Regions from separate parts of the Homo sapiens genome. Here region 1 is linked to region 2. Evidence: fine-mapped expression QTL. A gene starts in region 2. The other region holds a variant in brackets. All regions are shown on one strand. Distances are between the middles of the regions.

Evidence for each region.
Region 1: its variant is fine-mapped to the expression of BEAN1 in thyroid (GTEx, PIP 0.93).

What each region holds. Positions count from the first base shown.
Region 1 is chr16:66,489,808-66,498,674 of GRCh38, forward strand. It overlaps a transcript of BEAN1 not described here. Among named protein-coding and RNA genes, the nearest start is that of BEAN1-AS1, 18 kb to the left of the region's middle. The variant G/C (reference allele first, on the strand shown) is at 5,202.
Region 2 is chr16:66,422,377-66,431,243 of GRCh38, forward strand. It overlaps BEAN1 (brain expressed associated with NEDD4 1), which reads left to right and starts at 4,919. Exons shown (of 5, transcript NM_001178020.3): 1 at 4,919-5,055. RefSeq lists an enhancer at 5,747-6,347.

The sequences.
Region 1 (8,867 bases), 67 kb after region 2:
TGCTGAACTATCACGGTGCTACTCCAGGGGGATCTATTTTCGAGTAGAACTCCAACTGGGATGCAGTTTCTCAATCAAAGGGATATGAACTGCCCTGGCCACTGAATTCAGAGAACATTGTAGGGGGCAGGGGAGTTGGGAGCAGGGAGCAGAGATCCCAGCTGTGACGAGCCCAGGTCTGAGGCAGCTCCAAGACCAAGCACCCAGGTGGCTGTCCTTCCTGGCGACTGGAGAGGCAGGAGCCCAGCAGAGTCTCATAGAAAGCAAATGACAATCAAGACCCAGGTCCTCAGCCAGATGCGGTGGCTCATGCCTGTAATCTCAGCACTTTGGGAGGCCAAAGTGGGCAGATCACCTCAGGTCAGGAGTTTGAGATCAGCCTGGCCAACATGGTGAAATCCCATCTCTACTAAAAAAAAAAAAAAAAAAAAAAAAAAAAATTAGCCAGGCATAGTGGCACATGCATGTAGTCCCAACTACTTGGGAGGCTGAGGCAGGAGAATCGCTTGAACCCAGAAGGTGGAAATTGCAGTGGGCCAAGATCACGTCACTGCACTCCAGCCTGGGCAACAAAACAAGACTCTGTTTCAATAAAATAAAATAAAATAAAATAAAATAAAATAAAATAAAATAAAATAAAATAAAATAATAAAATAAAAAGAAACCTCTAAATTGATTGAGATCTGCCTCCGACACTTTTCAATTTACAAAAACATACCTAAGAATTGGCCACCCAGGGGCAGGAAGCTGGGGTTTCTATCCAGTAACTCTCACCCCGCTGGCCCTTGGTTGGTTGAGGGTCGCCACCTTCCTGGCGCTTCCAGCCTGTCCCGCACACTAGCAGAGTATGCCTCTGCAGCCAGCAGCACTCAAGGCATGAGGCATTACTGGGGATATCTGGATGGGATGGTAGTGTGGAAAGATGCAGATGCTGATGTGCCTGGTCTTCATTTTTTGTGGGGCAGGGGGACAAAGAAAGGACAAATCCTGACCTAGGCCCTGCTCCACTGGGAGGGGCCCGGTCACCCTCCAATCTCAGCTTTTCAGAGTGACAAGCAGTGGCAGGGCCTGGCTGCACATAGCTTTATCTCTTGCTAGCACAACTTCCTCCTTTGCTTCCAGATTGGGCTTTGGAGCAGGAGAGGCAGGACCCATCCATTCCTCCAAGTGCCCAGCCTGAGCCTGGCCTGGGACAGGACTCTATCCTCCATATCCAGCCCCCCCGAAGCCACCATGAGCAGGTCCCAATCCCCAGGCCCAGGCGAAGCTGCTCTGGGTGAGACCCTCCTGGGCAACATCATCAGCTACTACCAGGAGAGAGCAGGGGAGGGCCGGCTCGATGTCTGCAGGCAAGCAGCCCTCACCCACAGGGCCAGGTGGCTCCTGGGCAGGAGGGCCCCTCCATGGCTCTGTCTGCCAGAGGAAGTGGCCCTTGCTCTGGGTGGCTGCTGTTGTGGGGATCCCAGCCCTGTCCCAAAAGTCAGCCCTGAGCTGGTGCATGCACTAGAGTTCCTGGAGCTGATCTCTGTCAACCTGCTTCTGTTTCCCTGGAGGAAGGAAATCAGGTCCCTAAAGGTAGGCACTGCCACATGTCTGAGCAAGGGGGATTCAGCCAGGGGTTGGGGCTCTGCCTCTGGGAGAAACAGCATGCCCATCATATCCATTGACTTCAGTCCCATTTCAGTTTAAGAAATTGAGGGCTAAAGAGACAGATGCAACTTATCCATGGTCAACAGCTAGCAAGTGGTACAACTGCTCCTAACCACGAGACCAGCGGTCCCCAACCTTTTTGGCACCAGGGGCCAGTTTCACAGAAGACAATTTTTCCACAGACAGGGTGGAGGGATGGGGGCGGGGGTTAGTTTCAGGATGAAACTCTTCCACCTCAGACCATCAAGCATTAGATTTTCATAAGGAGCACGCAACCTAGATCCCTCTCATGCACAGTTCACAATAGGGTTCCACTCCTATGAGAATCTAATGCCACTGCTGATCGTGACAGGAGGCGGAGCTCAAGTGATAATGCTTGTTTGCCCGCCACTCACCTCCTGCTGTGCGGCCAGGTTCCTAACAGACCATAGACCAGTACTGGTCCAAGGCCTGGGGATTGGGGACTCCTGCACTGGACTGTTACTGCCTCTCCGAGGAAAGATGAACCAAGGTGCTCATAATAAACAACGGGAGGAGTTGGGCTTTAGAGAGCTACCAGAGAGGTTTTGTTTTTTTGTTGTTTTTCATTTTGTTTTGTTCTTGAGACAGAGTCTTGCTCTGTCACCCAGGCTGGAGTACAGTGGCGCGATCTTGGCTCACTGCAACTTCTGCCTCTCAGGATCAAGCGATTCTCCTGCCTCAGCCCCCTGAGTAGCTGGGATTACAGGTGTCCACCAACACACCTGGCTAATTTTTGTATTTTTAGTAGAGACGGGGTTTCACCATGTTGGCCAGGCTGGTCTCAAACTCCTGACCTGAAGTGATCTTCCTGCCTCGCCCTCCCAAAGTGCTGGGTTTACAGATGTGAGCAGTCACACTCGGCCCCTACCAGAGTTTTAATTTCTTCCTGCTCCAGGCCCTGACTGCTAGGCTGGGAGCTGGGATACCTAGAGCCTTACCCCAGCTCAGTCACTCTCTTTTTGCGTTTTTTTGTTTTTTTGAGATGGAGTCTCGCTGTGTGGCCCAGGCTGGAGAGCAGTGGTGCAATCTGTCCTCACTGCAACCTCCACCTCCTGGGTTCGAGCAATTCTCCTGCCTCAGCCTCCCAAACAGCTGGGATTACAGGCGCCTGCCACCATGCCCGGCTAATTTTTTTGTATTTTTAGTAGAGAGGGGTTTCACCATGTTGGCCAGGCTGGTCTCGAACTCCTGACCTCAGGTGATCCGCCCTCCTTGGCCTCCCAAAGTGCTGGGATTACAGGTGTGAGCCACCACACCCAGCCACTTTCTGAGTGTCTTTGGACAGATCCTGCTTTGTCTTTGAGCCTCAGTGTACCCCTGATCATGGGCCAGGCTTTCCTTTGGCCAAATGCCCTCATCCACGTGCTTCTCAGGAGCCCCTGGTGTCCCTCGGCACCAGCCCTTGGTCCTGCCTGGCCTGGCCCCTCTCAGCCACTCTGCTGAGGCCTGTCCCACTCCTAACAAGCTCCCTTGTCTGTTCTAGATGTACACTGGGAGCTTTACCTACTGGGTGCGATCTATGCTTTCCAGACACAAACTGGACGCCATCCTGGGCAGGCTGGGCTACACGGCCACCTTGGAGTCTGAGTTCTCACTGGTCCAGGCCATCAGCAAAGAGAATGTCAAGCAGATGGTGTTCAAGATCTTCCTGGTGAGGGTCTCATGTGAAGCCGTTCTCAGAACCGCGGGCACACGGATGCTTGAGCCGGGCACAGAGAAACTCGCTAGGACCCACAGCAGGCACAGCTCAGAGAAAAGGCTGGTGAAGCCCTGCAGCTGCCTCGAGGGGGTTCAGCCAGGCCCAGGTTCCGGGGGACCACAGCAAGGTCCCTCAGAAGGGGTGGGGTCCGAGACGGCCCTGGCAGAGGGCACTGCTGGCCAGAGATCTCTGCCCATGGCTCTGAGCCCATCTGAGGTCTCAACAGCCCCCAACAGCCTCCCCAGTGGCTCTCCAGTCCTCTAGGGCCCCCAGTGCCATGGCAGCACATGCCTGGACAGTGAGGAGGTCCTGCCTTGCTTCAGTGACCCTGTCTTACACTGGATGCCCTGGTTTCCCAAGGACATTTTCCTGAGAAGCCTGAAGGGAAACCAACTCCCAGGCCCAGCCCTGGCCCCTGGCCCTTCATCGGGTGAGGTGGTCACCGCCTCAGGGTGCAGCAGGGGGCAGCCCCTGGTCTCGGATGCAGTTCCTGAGAGCAGAAAAGTCACCATTCTCAGCCAGCTCTGCCCGACACCAGGTCCCCAATCTCCAGGGCAGCCCTTAGACCGGAAGCCAGAAGCATAGCTGGAGCTGGCCAGCCCCAGAATAGACGCCGCACCTCCCAGCACCTCTTCCGAGAGGAATGAGCTCTGTGAGTGCTCCCTCACCTTCTTGGTCCCTCAACTCCTGCAGGCCATCCTAGAGGCATCCCACGCCCTGAGGTGGAGGAAGATGGACAACTAGGGCCTCTTGTGGGGCCAGAGCCAACTGGTGATGACGGCAGCCCAGAAAGTGGAGTCACTCCATTCTGGAGGTCTACCCAGGCTCCCCTGCATGGATGAGAGCACCCCAGCACCCACTATACCCCCAGTGGGGGCTGGTGGCACCAGTACCCACCCAAAGACACCATCCCAGCAATAGCTGAGGGAGTGATCTCTCGCTAGTACAGGGCAGGCACCCTGAATAAGCAAATAGCTCTCACTGTGATGTCCACCAGGAGGTGACTGCTGGGAGAGGTGCTAGACCTGGGATCACAGCACAGGAGGAGAAGCAGGGCACGGGGGAAGAGTGGCCAAACCTATGGCTTGCTTGTGAGGCATAGGAGCCAATCTGCTAACCCCAAAAGGTCTCAAATTCCAGCCCTGCCATCGATGGCTTGTGTGACCTTGGGCAACTCACTCCACCTCTATGAGCCTCGTTTTCCTCATCTGTAAAGTGACTATGGTCAGACCTCCTTCCCAGGAGGCTGGGAAGAGTTAGTGAGGTGAGGTGTGCTCAGTGCCCATCAGAGACCGACCCAGAGAAGGGCCCCTCCCTTTAGGTTTTCTGTCCTCTTCATGTCCCAGTTCAGTTGTGTGACCCTGGGTAGGTCATCCTGCAGCTCTGAGTAGCCGCTTCCCTCAGCAGCCTTCAGACCCATTTCACCTATCACAGTGCAAATAAAGAGGGCATAGATGTGTAGACAACTGGATGTGTAGTACACCCTTAATCCATCTAGGATCCACTACTGGCCTCCCTTTTCTTTCGGCTAATTTGTTGGGAGCTCAGGGTCAACTCTCATGCCTGCTCTCCATCCAGGAGCGGGGGCACCCCCTCTACCTGCCATCTCCTGCCCCTTTATGTACACATATACATGCACATGTGCACACAAATAGGTACATTCAGGTATGGCACATGCACATACACATGCCCTTAGTCATTCCTCATTGGGATCCCAACAGAGGGCATCCTCCTCCAACCAGGGGCTTCTCTATGTGGTGGCAGGTGTCACTAACCCAGGGACGGCCTCTAGGCTTCCCATCTGTGAAATGGGAAAAATTAAATAGGTGAA[G/C]GTCCCTTCAGGGTGCAAAGCAGGTGTTTAATAATTGTTGGTACCTGCCTTTGCTCTCCCTGAAACTGAGCATATAACCACACCACTTTCAGTCCTTAAGACCAAGGGGGGGCCTCAGGCTGGAAGGATTTTAAAAGCTTTGGCTCCACCTGCATCCAAGTCAGACAGCAGTCCTAAAACAGCCCCTACACAGGCTTTCTGAGACACAAATCAGGAAGCAGTATGCACTGGGCAGCACAGGGCACGCTGGTTATCACCCACTCATCCATCCAACCATCCATCCCTCCCTGCCTCCCACCCTCCCTCCTTCCCTTGATCCTTCCTTCCTTCCTTCCCTCCATCCAACCATCCATCCATCCCTGCCTCCCACCTCCCTCCCACCCTGGATCCTTCCTTCCTTCTTTCCTTCCTTCCCTCCATCCAACCGTCCATCCATCCCTGCCTCCCACCTCCCTCCTGCCCTTGATCCTTCCTTCCTTCCTTCCTTCTTTCCTTCCTTCCCTCCATCCAACCATCCATCCATCCCTGCCTCCCACCTCCCTCCTGCCCTTGATCCTTCCGTCCTTCTTTCCTTCCTTCCCTCCATCCAACCATCCATCCATCCATCCATCCTTCCATCCATCCATCCCCACCTCCCACCTTCCTCCCTTCCTTCCTTCTATCCATCCAGCCATTCATCCATCCAACCATCCATCCATCCACCCATCCTAATCACTTAGCACAGCATCTGGCAGCCCACAGCCAAGCTGGAGAGCTGTCAGGGTGTGGAGCATTATCGGGAAAGTGAGGGAGCCACACCCCAGCCACAAGCCTCCATCAGGAACATCAAAAACAAGTGAGGCCAGATGCGGTGGCTCATACCTATAATCCCAGCACTTTGGGAGGCCAAGATGGGAGGATCACTTGAGCCCAGGAGTTTGAGACCAGCCTGGACAACATAGTAAGACCTTGTCTCTATTAAAAAAAAAAAATTAGGAGGTGGAGCCAAGATGGCCGAATAGGAACAGCTCCAGTCTACAGCTCCCAGCATGAGCGACGCAGAAGACGGGTGATTTCTGCATTTCCAACTGAGGTACCGGGTTCATCTCACTGGGGAGTGTTGGAAAGTGGGTGCAGGACAGTGGGTGCAGCGCACCAAGCATGAGCCAAAGCAGGGTGAGGCATCGCCTCACCCAGGAAGCGCAAGGGGTCAGGGAATTCCCTTTCCTAGTCAAAGAAAGGGGTGACAGACGGCACCTGGAAAATTGGGTCACTCCCACCCTAATACTGCGCTTTTCCAATGGTCTTAGCAAATGGCACACCAGGAGATTATATCCCGCGCATGGCTCAGAGGGTCCTACGCCCACGGAGCCTCGCTCATTGCTAGCACAGCAGTCTGAGATCAAACTGCAAGGTGGCAGCAAGGCTGGTGGAGAGGCGCCCGCCACTGCCAAGGCTTGAGTAGGTAAACAAAGCAGCCAGGAAGTTCGAACTGGGTGAAGCCCACTGCAGCTCAAGGAGGCCTGCCTGCCTCTGTAGACTCCACCTCTGGGGACAGGGCACAGCCAAACAAAAGGCAGCAGAATCCTCTGCAGACTTAAATGTCCCTGTCTGACAGCTTTGAAGAGAGTAGTGGTTCTCCCAGCATGCAGCTGGAGATCTGAGAATGGACAGACTGCCTCCTCAAGTGGGTCCCTGACCCCTGAGTAGCCTAACTGGGAGGCATCCCCCAGTAGGGGCAGACTGACACCTCACACAGCTGGGTACTCCTCTGAGACAAAACTTCCAGAGGAACGATCAGGCAGCAACATTTGCTGTTCACCAAAATCCGCTGTTCTACAGCCTCTGCTGCTGATACCCAGGCAAACAGGGTCTGGAGTGGACCTCCGGCAAACTCCAACAGACCTGCAGCTGAGGGTCCTGACTGTTAGAAGGAAAACTAACAAACAGAAAGGACATCCACACCAAAACCCCATCTGTACGTCACCATCATCAAAGACCAAAGGTAGATAAAACTACAAAGATGGGGAAAAAACAGAGCAGAAAAACTGGAAACTCTAAAAATCAGAGTGCCTCTCCTCCTCCAAAGGAACACAGCTCCTCACCAGCAACAGAACAAAGCTGGACGGAGAATGACTTTGACGAGTTGAGAGAAGAAGGCTTCAGATGATCAAACTACTCCAGGCTAAAGGAGGAAGTCCAAACCCATGGCAAAGAAGTTAAAAACCTTGAAAAAAAATTAGACGAATGGCTAACTAGAATAATCAATGCAGAGAAGTCCTTAAAGGACCTGATGGAGCTGAAAACCAAGGCATGAGAACTACGTGACGAATGCACAAGCCTCAGTAGCCAATTCGATCAACTGGAAGAAAGGGTATCAGTGATGGAAGATCAAATGAATGAAATGAAGCGAGAAGTTTAGAGAAAAAATAATAAAAAGAACACAGCCTCCAAGAAATATGGGACTATGTGAAAAGACCAAATCTACATCTGATTGGTGTACCTGAAAGTGACGGGGAGAATGGAACCAAGTTGGAAAACACTCTGCAGGATATTACCCAGGAGAACTTCCCCAACCTAGCAAGGCAGGCCAACATTCATATTCAGGAAATACAGAGAATGCCACAAAGATACTCCTTGAGAAGAGCAACTCCAAGACACATAATTGTCAGATTCACCAAAGTTGAAATGAAGGAAAAAATGTTAAAGGCAGCCAGAGAGAAAGGTCGGGTTACCCACAAAGGGAAGCCCATCAGACTAACAGCTGATCTCTCGGCAGAAACTCTACAAGCCAGAAGAGAGTGGGGGCCGATATTCAACATTCTTAAAGGAAAGAATTTTCAACCCAGAATTTCATATCCAGCCAAACTAAGCTTCATAAGTGAAGGAGAAATGAAATACTTTACAGACAAGCAAATGCTGAGAGATTTTCTCACCACCAGGCCTGCCCTAAAAGAGCTCCTGAACGAAGCACTAAACATGGAAAGGAACAACTGGTACCAGCCACTGCAAAAACATGCCAAACTGTAAAGACCACTGAGGCTAGGAAGAAACTGCATCAACTAATGAGCAAAATAACCAGCTAACATCATAATGACAGGATCAAATTCACACATAACAATAATGTAAATGGGCTAAATGCTCCAATTAAAAGACACAGACTGGCAAATTGGATAAAGAGTCAAGACCCATCAGTGTGCTGTATTCAGGAAACCCATCTCACGTGCAGAGACACACATAGGCTCAAAATAAAGGGATGGAGGAAGATCTACCAAGCAAATGGAAAACAAAAAAAGGCAGGGGTTGCAATCCTAGTCTCTGATAAAACAGACTTTAAACCAACAAAGATCAAAAGAGACAAAGAAGACCACTACATAATGGTAAAGGGATCAATTCAACAAGAAGAGCTAACTATCCTAAATATATATGCACCCAATACAGGAGCACCCAGATTCATAAAGCAAGTCCTTAGAGACCTACAAAGAGACTTAGACTCCCACACAATAATAATGGGAGACTTTAACAACCCACTGTCAACATTAGACAGATCAACGAAACAGAAAGTTAACAAGGATATCCAGGAATTGAACTCAGCTCTGCACCAAGCGGACCTAATAGACATCTACAGAACTCTCCACCCCAAATCAACAGAATATAATTCTTTGCAGCACCACACCGCACCTATTC
Region 2 (8,867 bases):
GACCTTGACAGAGAATCCAGTGAGAAATTGATTAAAGTCTGTGGCAATGGACTTTAGATCCCAGATCAGAAGAGAGACAACCATAGACTAAAGCCCTTGCTGGGAGTACTGCATGTCACTGAAAATGGAGAGCCCCGGAAACTTCCTCATGCCCACAGTCTCAGCCCAGCTGTCCTGACTTCGGCCTTGGCAAAGGAAGTGGTTTTGGGTCCAGGCCAAATGTGGGGGCCTGGGCTGACCCAAGAGGCTGGACCCAGAGAATCCTAAGTCCTCACTCTGCAGAGTCTGGACCATTTGATCCCCCTTGCACCCACATACCCCAACTCATCCTCCATGCAGCAGAGAGATCTTTCTAAAATAACAACCTGACCAAGCCACCCCTCTTAAAGCCCTTATATGGTTCCCAAGGCCTTCACCCTATCATTCAAGGCCTTTACGACCTGCCTTTCCTGTCTTTCCTCATAACACACCATTCATTCACACTCAACTTTGCTCCCAATGTTCCGAGTTACCTGTGTCCCTGGAATCACCTTGGTCTCTTGACACCTATTCCATCATTGTACACATAAGCTATTCCCTCTCCTGGAACATCTCACTCACTGCATCCCATTCATCTGATGAAATCTTGATTGAACTTTAAGCTCAACTCAAGAAACACACCCTCAAAGAGGCCTTTTCTGACCTCCACAGATTGAGTTAAGTGTTTTTTCTTTGAGCACACATCTGGCACAGAAAATATATTGTTCTGGGATCATTTGTTTATAATCTGCTTCTTTTAACACATTGCCAGCTCCTAGAGGGCAGGGACCTTGTTTTCCACATCCTTTTTTTTTTCATCAGTTCATAGCAGAGTTCTTGGCCTGTAGTGAGCATCAGTAAGTATGCATGGGACATATGGGTGGATAGATGCAGATGGGGTAAGTGGATGGGTGATGGGAGTTTGAATGGATAGATGAGGAGTGGGTGAATGGGAGGAAGAATAAATGCATGTGTAGGAGGATGGGGAGGTGGTTAGATGAGAGGAAGGGAGGAAGGAAGGCAGGAAGGAAGGAAGGATTGAAAGATGGGAGGAGGCCTAGGTGGATAAGTGGGAGGACAGATGGGTGAATGGGTGGATAAACGGATAGATCATAGGAGGATGGAGAAAGGATAAGTGGACCCATAGGAGGATAGATGAGTGGATGGGTAGGTGGGTAGATGGATGGATCAATCAGTTCTGCCTAGGCTTAGGGTTCAGTCCTTAGATTGTCTTTGTGACCTGGACTCCTCTCAGAGTTCTGCTGCCTGCCGATGACTCCTGAAATTGAACATGTGTATAATCAAACTCATATTCTCCTTTCTCACATTTGATTCCCTTCTAGTGTTCTGTTCCTTGGTGACTGGCAACACCACCCACCTGCCTGCACCAGGTTGGCCTAACTTGTTTGGGGCAGGTTTAGGTAGAAATCTGGGTTCTGCTCCTAATTAGCTATGTGTCCTTGAGCAAGTTACTTGAGTGCCATAAACCTCACTGCTGCATGTGAAATATAAAGAAAATATTACCCACCTCCTCAGGATGTTGGGAGGATGGAATTAAATGCTGCATGTAGCATAACTAACACATTGTCAGGCCTCTCTAAGGAGATGTCAGGACTGGGCTGGGGGCAGGAGCAGAAAGTTCTATACCCAGTCCCTGCTCAGCGCTCAGCCACTTACCCTGAAATAAACTCTACCTTGAATACAGATCTTCAAGAAGCCCCAGAAATAAGTTTCCCCAGAAAGGCCGCTGGAGATAGGAGAGGAGAGGCTGTCTTTTATACTTCAGCTCCTGGAGACCTAGTCCAGGGTCCTAGAAGAGAGGTTTCCCTCCTAAAGGAAGACAGAAGGGGCAGCCTGGCTGTGTTAAGCCGTTCTTACATTGCTATAAAGGAATATATGAGACTGGGTAATTTGTAAGGGGGTAAAGCAAAGACATTTCAAAGAAGGAAGGATGGTAGGGAGGTACAAGCTGATCAGGCCCAAGAGACCCTTCCAACATCTCCATGCCATGGGCTCTGTTTGGGATGAATGACATCATGGATCCTGTTCTTTGCAAACAGAAAAGACGTTTTTTGGGATTCCCTGTGAGCGGCTGGGGTGACATGAAGCACACTCTAGGGCAAGCCCCAAAGCCCAGCACTTGGGGACTCTTTGGGCATCTCACTGTCCTGAGATCTCACTTCCTGATTTCCCTCAGACTCTTCCCTCCAGCATCCCTACCTATCCCTAGGCCAAGCAAACACTAAACACCACTGTGCCTCCCTGGTACCCAGTAGATGCCCCTTCTGCAAATCTGACCCTACACGAAGAAAGCCTCAAAACTATGACATACCTAGAGACATAAAGGATAGTCATGGGCATGCACAAGCCTCCCCATGAAGATGTCCGTTGCAGTGTTGTTTAGAAGTATGAAAAATGGAAACAAACTAAATGCTCAGAAATAGGGGACTGGTTAAAAAAATATGTGCAATACAACCATCTGATCCTATGCTAGGTAGCCACTAAAAGTGTGACATAGGAGAGGAGATATCAGTCAGCAAGCTCACTCCATTTAAGGACTCTTGTAGAGTTACACAGGTAAAAAGAAAGGAAAACAGGAAAGCTCAATATTCACAATGACTGGATTTTCTTTTCTTCTTTTTCCTTTTGTATTTTCCAAGTGCCCTACACTAATATATATTTGTGGATGGATACATAGACACACAGAGATTGGTAGGCACGCCGTCATAAGCCAGCTCCCTGAAACTACACCCAACACCACTGGAAAACAGTCCTGGTTCCAGTCTGAGGAGCAAGCCAGATTTGCCAGGCCAGTGATGCACAAATAGGGGAGTGGACGGGAATTAACTCTTTAGGGCTAGGACCTTCCGCAAGGACTCACTCAAAGTGTGCCACACACACTTATCCCTGGTCCCCCCACCCCCACCACAACACACACACACACAAACACACAGAGTCTTGCCAAAGGGGGCAGCTTACAGGCAAAACCACTCAACAACTAGAATATCCATCCTGGAAGGGTCAGCAGGTGTCCTCAGAGAGATCAAGGTTATACCGTGGGCACAGCCCTAGCTTGGGAGTTGTAGAGCCTCCAATCCTACCTCTTTGACCCTAGCCTATCCCCTCCTTTCTCTGATCCTTCATTTATTCATTCATAAAATAAATGCATGAGGTTGGACAAAGGGTCTCTCAGGTCCCCTTCCTCGGTTCTCTGAGAATTGTTTCCCTTTATTCTAGCCTCATCCCTTACTCAGAGCTGATGTCCCCGTGACAGCCCCAGCCTGCAGGAGGGCGGGGAGTGGGGGCGGGGGGGGGGCGGTAAATAGTGCAGGGAGCAGAGCCCAGAATGAACAGTTACCAGAGGAGGCTGGGAGATGTCCTCAAGCACCCAAGCCCTAGACCACGCAGCTTCCCCTGCCTGGCCCCAGGGAAGCCCAAGACGTGATGACTGGCAGGGCTGGGGTTTGTTTTCTCCACCGGAGCCTGCTCTGCCCCATCCTCCCTGCAAGGCCAGTCCCTGGCCAACTTTCCCTTCCACAACATCCCCATGGCTTCACTGCTTCCCCAAGGTTTAGCATCAACATGTTCAGCCCTTTGTCACCATGCTTTATTTTTGAGAACCACTTTCCCGCCAGTGACAAGCCTTTGGGTTTTGAAACGAACCCAGCTTTTGACTCCCCTTGCCTCCTAAGCCCCAGTTTCCTCATCAACAGTAGTGGTTCAGAGAGTGTTAGCAACAACACATTTCATCAATTCCTGCAGCAAATTCACTGAGTGCCCACTCTGTGCAGACCCCTGCAGCCCTACCCAGACGCTGCCCTCCTGGCGCTCCCAGGCAAGTGGCGGAGGTTAAATAAATAACTCCTCCACGCTGGCGAGCACCCCAACACAGTAGGGGTGCAATCATTGGGAGCAATATCCTAATGAGGACAGGGAGGCCTGAGAGATGGGCTGGGATTCGTCCAAGGCCCCAAAGCAGGGTGGGGACAGAGCAGGTCCTGGAAGCCTGGAACCCCGGCCTGAGCCAGGCATCCCCTCGGGGCCGGCTTCCACCTGCCAGGGCTGAGCCCTATGCCCTGACGTTTGGGCAGCGGGGAACGGGGGCACAGGGAGGGTGACGGGGTGAAGGAAACAGGCCTGCTGGTGGCTCCGAAGGAAGGTTTGGGCCAGGCCTAGCTGGAATCCCAAAACTCACCTGCCAGCAACCGCGAGCGGGAAGCCCTGCCAGGCTCGCCTGCCCCTGCCAGCGGCCCAGCCACGCTGGGTCCCCCTCTCCATCCCGCACTTTGCTCTTTGCCCGCGACAGGGGTCCCCTGCTCAAATGCCCAGCCTAGCCTCGGTCCAACCTGTCTGGCTGTCCTTCCCTGACACCTCGTTTGTCTACCCTTCTCTGCACGTGTCAGTGGCTCCCCGCTCGCGTCCGTGTGTCATTCCCTACACACGCCTGTGTGTCCTCTTCACACGTCTGACTGGAGCGTCGGCCTCCCGCATTTCCCGGCCTCCTCGCCGCCCTGCCCCGCCTGCTGCTGTGTGGGTGTCGGGCTGGCTGTGCGCAAAGGGGCGCGGCTCGGCCCTCCCCCGCACCCGCGCCCCCCGCCCCGCATCTCGGAGTGACCCGGGCCGCGGCGCCGCGGTGCTGAGGCCCGGGAGCCGCGCCGCCGCCGAGGGGGGCCGGGGCCGGTGACGGTGGCGTGGGCGGCGGCGCGGGGACGACGGGCGGCCGGGCGGGGCTGCGGCAGGGCAGGGCCAGGGCCAGGGCCGGGGCCTGGGAAGCCGCCGCCGCCGCTGCCTCGGCCCGGGATCGCGGGCGGCTGGTCGGCCCGGCTCGCCTGGCCCCGCCTGGCCCGCCCCGCCCCGCCCCTGCGCGCCCAGCAGGCCGAAGCGTAGCGGCGCGCCCCCCGCGACGCCCGAGCCCGAGCGCAGTGGCCTCCGAGCGGGAACCGGACTGGGAGCCGGAGCCGGGGCGGGAACCGGAGCTGGAGCCGAAGCTGGAGCCGGCACTGCGGCGCACGGAGCGGAGCGCTGCAGCCAAGCCGAGTAAGGGGCGTGGGGCTGGGCGGCGCGGGGGAGGGGCGGGCGGGGGGTCCCGGCCCCATTCCCCCGCGCTCTGCGGTGGTACCGGCGAACGACACACCCGGGGGCGCGCCGCGCGGAGCCTCGGTGCGCGGGGCGGGCGGATGCGCGGTCCGGAACGGAACCGCAGCGCGCTCGGAACGGAGCGGGATCCCGGGTCTCCCGCGGACCCTCGACCCCGGGCTGGCCACTGGGATCTGCGCGAGCCGAGGCTGACCCTGATCGCGCCCTCGGGCCTCGGGGAAGGGGAGGTATCCAGGTTTTCTGCCTGACTCGAGTCCCCGACGAGCATCAACCGCATTTGGGGAACCCAAGACAGCCTCCCCAGCAGCTTGCCCTCGGTTTCGGGGACCCCTGAACAACCCAACCAAGAAGGGAAAACTAGGGCGCACTCTCGGTCGGGGTGGGAGAGGAAAGGGGCTGGGGCTTCACGGAGTTTGGAGTTTGAACCCACCCGCACCCCTTTGAGCTAGGAAGTTTGACCCTTCGACGAGCAGGTCGCCTGGGGTATGCCCCTGTCTCCGTGCCTCTGTCTCAGCACCGAGCGTCGGAGAGAGAGCGCGCCCTCCGCACCTTCTCCCACTTTGGGACAGACTTTCCCTTGCGCTGTCAGAGGGACCCGAGGCTGAGTACGAGGCGAGGCGGCAGGCAGCTCAGGCTGGCTGCGCAGCGCTGAGTGGCACCGCCGCCGCTCCCCAGGGGCAGGGCCCACCCCACACCCGGCTGACTCTCGCTGCCCTTCCTCCTTCCCTATCGGGCTCTGCGGTCTGGAGGCTGGAGAGCGGTGAGGACCAGGGACTGCCCTGTCCATCTCGGGCGGGTGCCGGCGTGGGTGGCGGGGCGCAGGCTGGGAAAGGGAGGGCGCAAGTAACTGGTGTGAGAGGCAGGGGTTCAGGGATCCTTGCTCTTGAGCCACGATTTCCGATGAGCCCCTGCCGAGAGCATGCCGCTCTGGACTCACTCCTCAAACATAACTGCTCTGCTGGAACGAGAGACTTCACCACCCTGTGCCTCAGTTTCCTCATCTGAAAGTAAGCAGGAGTCTGTTGTGAGCGGGATGTTTAAGGGATTTGGAACCAGAAGGTGGGCTTGGCTGACTTCCTGGCTGTACAACCTTAAGCAAGACACAAACCTCTCTGAGCCTTAGTTTCCCCATCTGGAACATGGGGAAGGTGAGTTGGGAGGATTAAATGAGATGATGCTGGTGAGGGTATGTAGCCTGGTGCCTGGCACGCAGCCAGTGGCCAATTGTGGTGGGCTACAGGTGTCCTGAGGTGTCCAGCACCAGTAGATGCTGAGATTCAGTGCCTCTGAATCTGAAGTGGTGCTCCCAGCCCCCTCCAAGGAGGCCTTTGAATTCCCCAAGCTGTTGACATTTAATTGCAAAGCAAAACTTTCTCCTTAGGGCCCACCCTTTCTCAGACGCTCCCTCCTCCAAGGCTCTCTACCGCCCAGCCCAGTTCTCCCCTGCTACCTCCCATCTCTCTCCAGGGTGAAAAGGCTGCATCTGACTGTAAGGTGCACCCTTTTCCTCCTTGCCCTTAGCTGATGTCCGCTGCCCCAGAGAGGGGCACCCACCCATTGCTCGAGCTCCGTACAAGGGAATTTAACACCTCCCTCCACTCCCGGGTGGAGGATTGCTTTCCCTGAGGAGCCATCAGGCTGTCAGGTGGCTTGGACACACCGATGGTGACGGTTCAGACAGGCAGCAAGAAGCACCAGGGAGACAGCCTAGAGGTCTGAGGGGTCCCAGCCTTGATTCTTCGCAGACTATGATGTATTCGTCCAGGCAACTGGGCCATGAGGCACCAGAAATGAAGGATGTCGGGGAGGAAATGGAGCCAGTGATTGAGAGGTTCAAACTTCAGAGCAGGGTGTCCCCAGGAAGGGATTTGCTCCAGTCTGTGTGGCTGGGACCTTAGACCCAGAGCAGAGCAGGGCATAGGCCCAGGGGATAGGGGAGGATGCTGGGATCCTGGAGGTGGCAAGGAGCGGGTGGGCGGGCAGGAGTGATGGGAAGAAAGCAGTGGTCCAGTTCACACCCATGTTGGTCCCTGGCCACCTGTGCTGTGTGGGTGTTCTGGCCCAGCTGCCCAGAACAGGGATGGGGGAGGAATCTCAGATGAGGAAACATGTCCACATGGTGCCAGGGTACACCTGGTAAGACAGGCAAGATGAGCTGCCACCTGGGGCCTCCTACACGGAATCTCCCTCTCTCCTCTTCTTCCTCTGTAGCTTCCCCCTCCCCTTCCCCATTCACCCACTAGGGGTCACGTCGCTGTGTCTTCCAAAATCCTCACTCCTCATCTTCCCAAAGGAGTTAATCAGGAACTAATTAGGCTTGAGTCTCCTGCTTCGCTCAGGATTTGGAACACAGCCAGTGGGGAATGTGACGGGGATGCAGGCATTACTGTCAGGCTTTAGGAATAATCAGCCGGACACCCTCAGAGGACCATTGTCTGAAACTCTTGCCCTGGAAGTACTCAGAGGATAGGGTGAGGGGCATCTGCTGTCAGCCTCCTAAAGGGAGAAACTGAGGCCAGGAGGGCTTCTGCAGTCCATTAGCAAGCAGGCACAAACAAGAGTCACGGCTGAGAGCAGTTTTTTGGAGCTGGACCGCCTGGGTTTATAGCATGTGGTTCTGGGAAGGTGACTTATTTTTCAAAGCCTCAGTTCCCTCTTGAAAATGGGAATAAATGTTACACACCTCCCAGAATAGTGTGAGGATGAAGAAATCATATACAGATAGCACATAGCCATGTCCAGTGGACCTCTGCCAGTGGCCTGCAGTGTCAACATTGTGAACATGCATTGCACACACGCTGTTTCCTAAACGTATGCATTTTCTCTTTGAATTCTGATAACCAGCTCTCTGATTTAGGAACTATACTTGTTCCCATTTTATTGATGAGAACACTGAGGCTTGAAACGTTTAAGGACTATCTAATTCTGCCAGGTATAGAATAGTTAAAACATCACTATGACTCATCCTAATTGTATGAGTTTGTAAAACTGATAATTACCACATTGTAATTTAGATGATATGTAATCAGTTATTAGAATGATTCTTTCATGTACATCTTCAATCATTTTATGTCTGAGAACTGAAAAAGAATATGTTAATTGTCCACAGGCTATAGAATTTTTAGACACCTTCGTATTTTGTTTTCCTGTTTGAACAGTAATCAAACTGATTTAAAAGAGCAGTTCCCTGTTCATTACCTATCCTTCTTCTCTCCATTTTTCTCTAGAGCACTTATTACCTCCAACATCTATATATCTTATTCATTTGTCTATTGTATGCCCACGTCAATATAATGTGAGCACTGCAAGAACAAGGACTTTTGACTGTTTTGTTCACTATATCCTCAGAGCCTAGACTAGTACCCAGCACTTATTGTGCCTTCCAAAATTATAAAGTGTTTTACAAACATATGGTCTATTATTGTTATTATTTTTGCCAAGTGTATAGGTTGATTGAAAATAAAACATTAAGTTAATAGCAGAAACCATTCCCTCAAATATTTGGCAAATAGGACTTGCTCAAGTGCCAAGGATAATTTGATAAAGGTTAAAAACAATGGATATTATTTTTCTAGTATTATAATAAAGCTTATCAGTGAGTTCAATGACAAGTAAATTAAAAAAATTTTTTTCAATAACAAATGACATGTTCAAAGGCAATTAGATTAGCCTTAAAATTTTTCCTTGAGAACACCCCGGCATGGTGGCACATGCCTGTAGTCAGCTGCTCCAGAGGCTGAGGCAGGATCTCT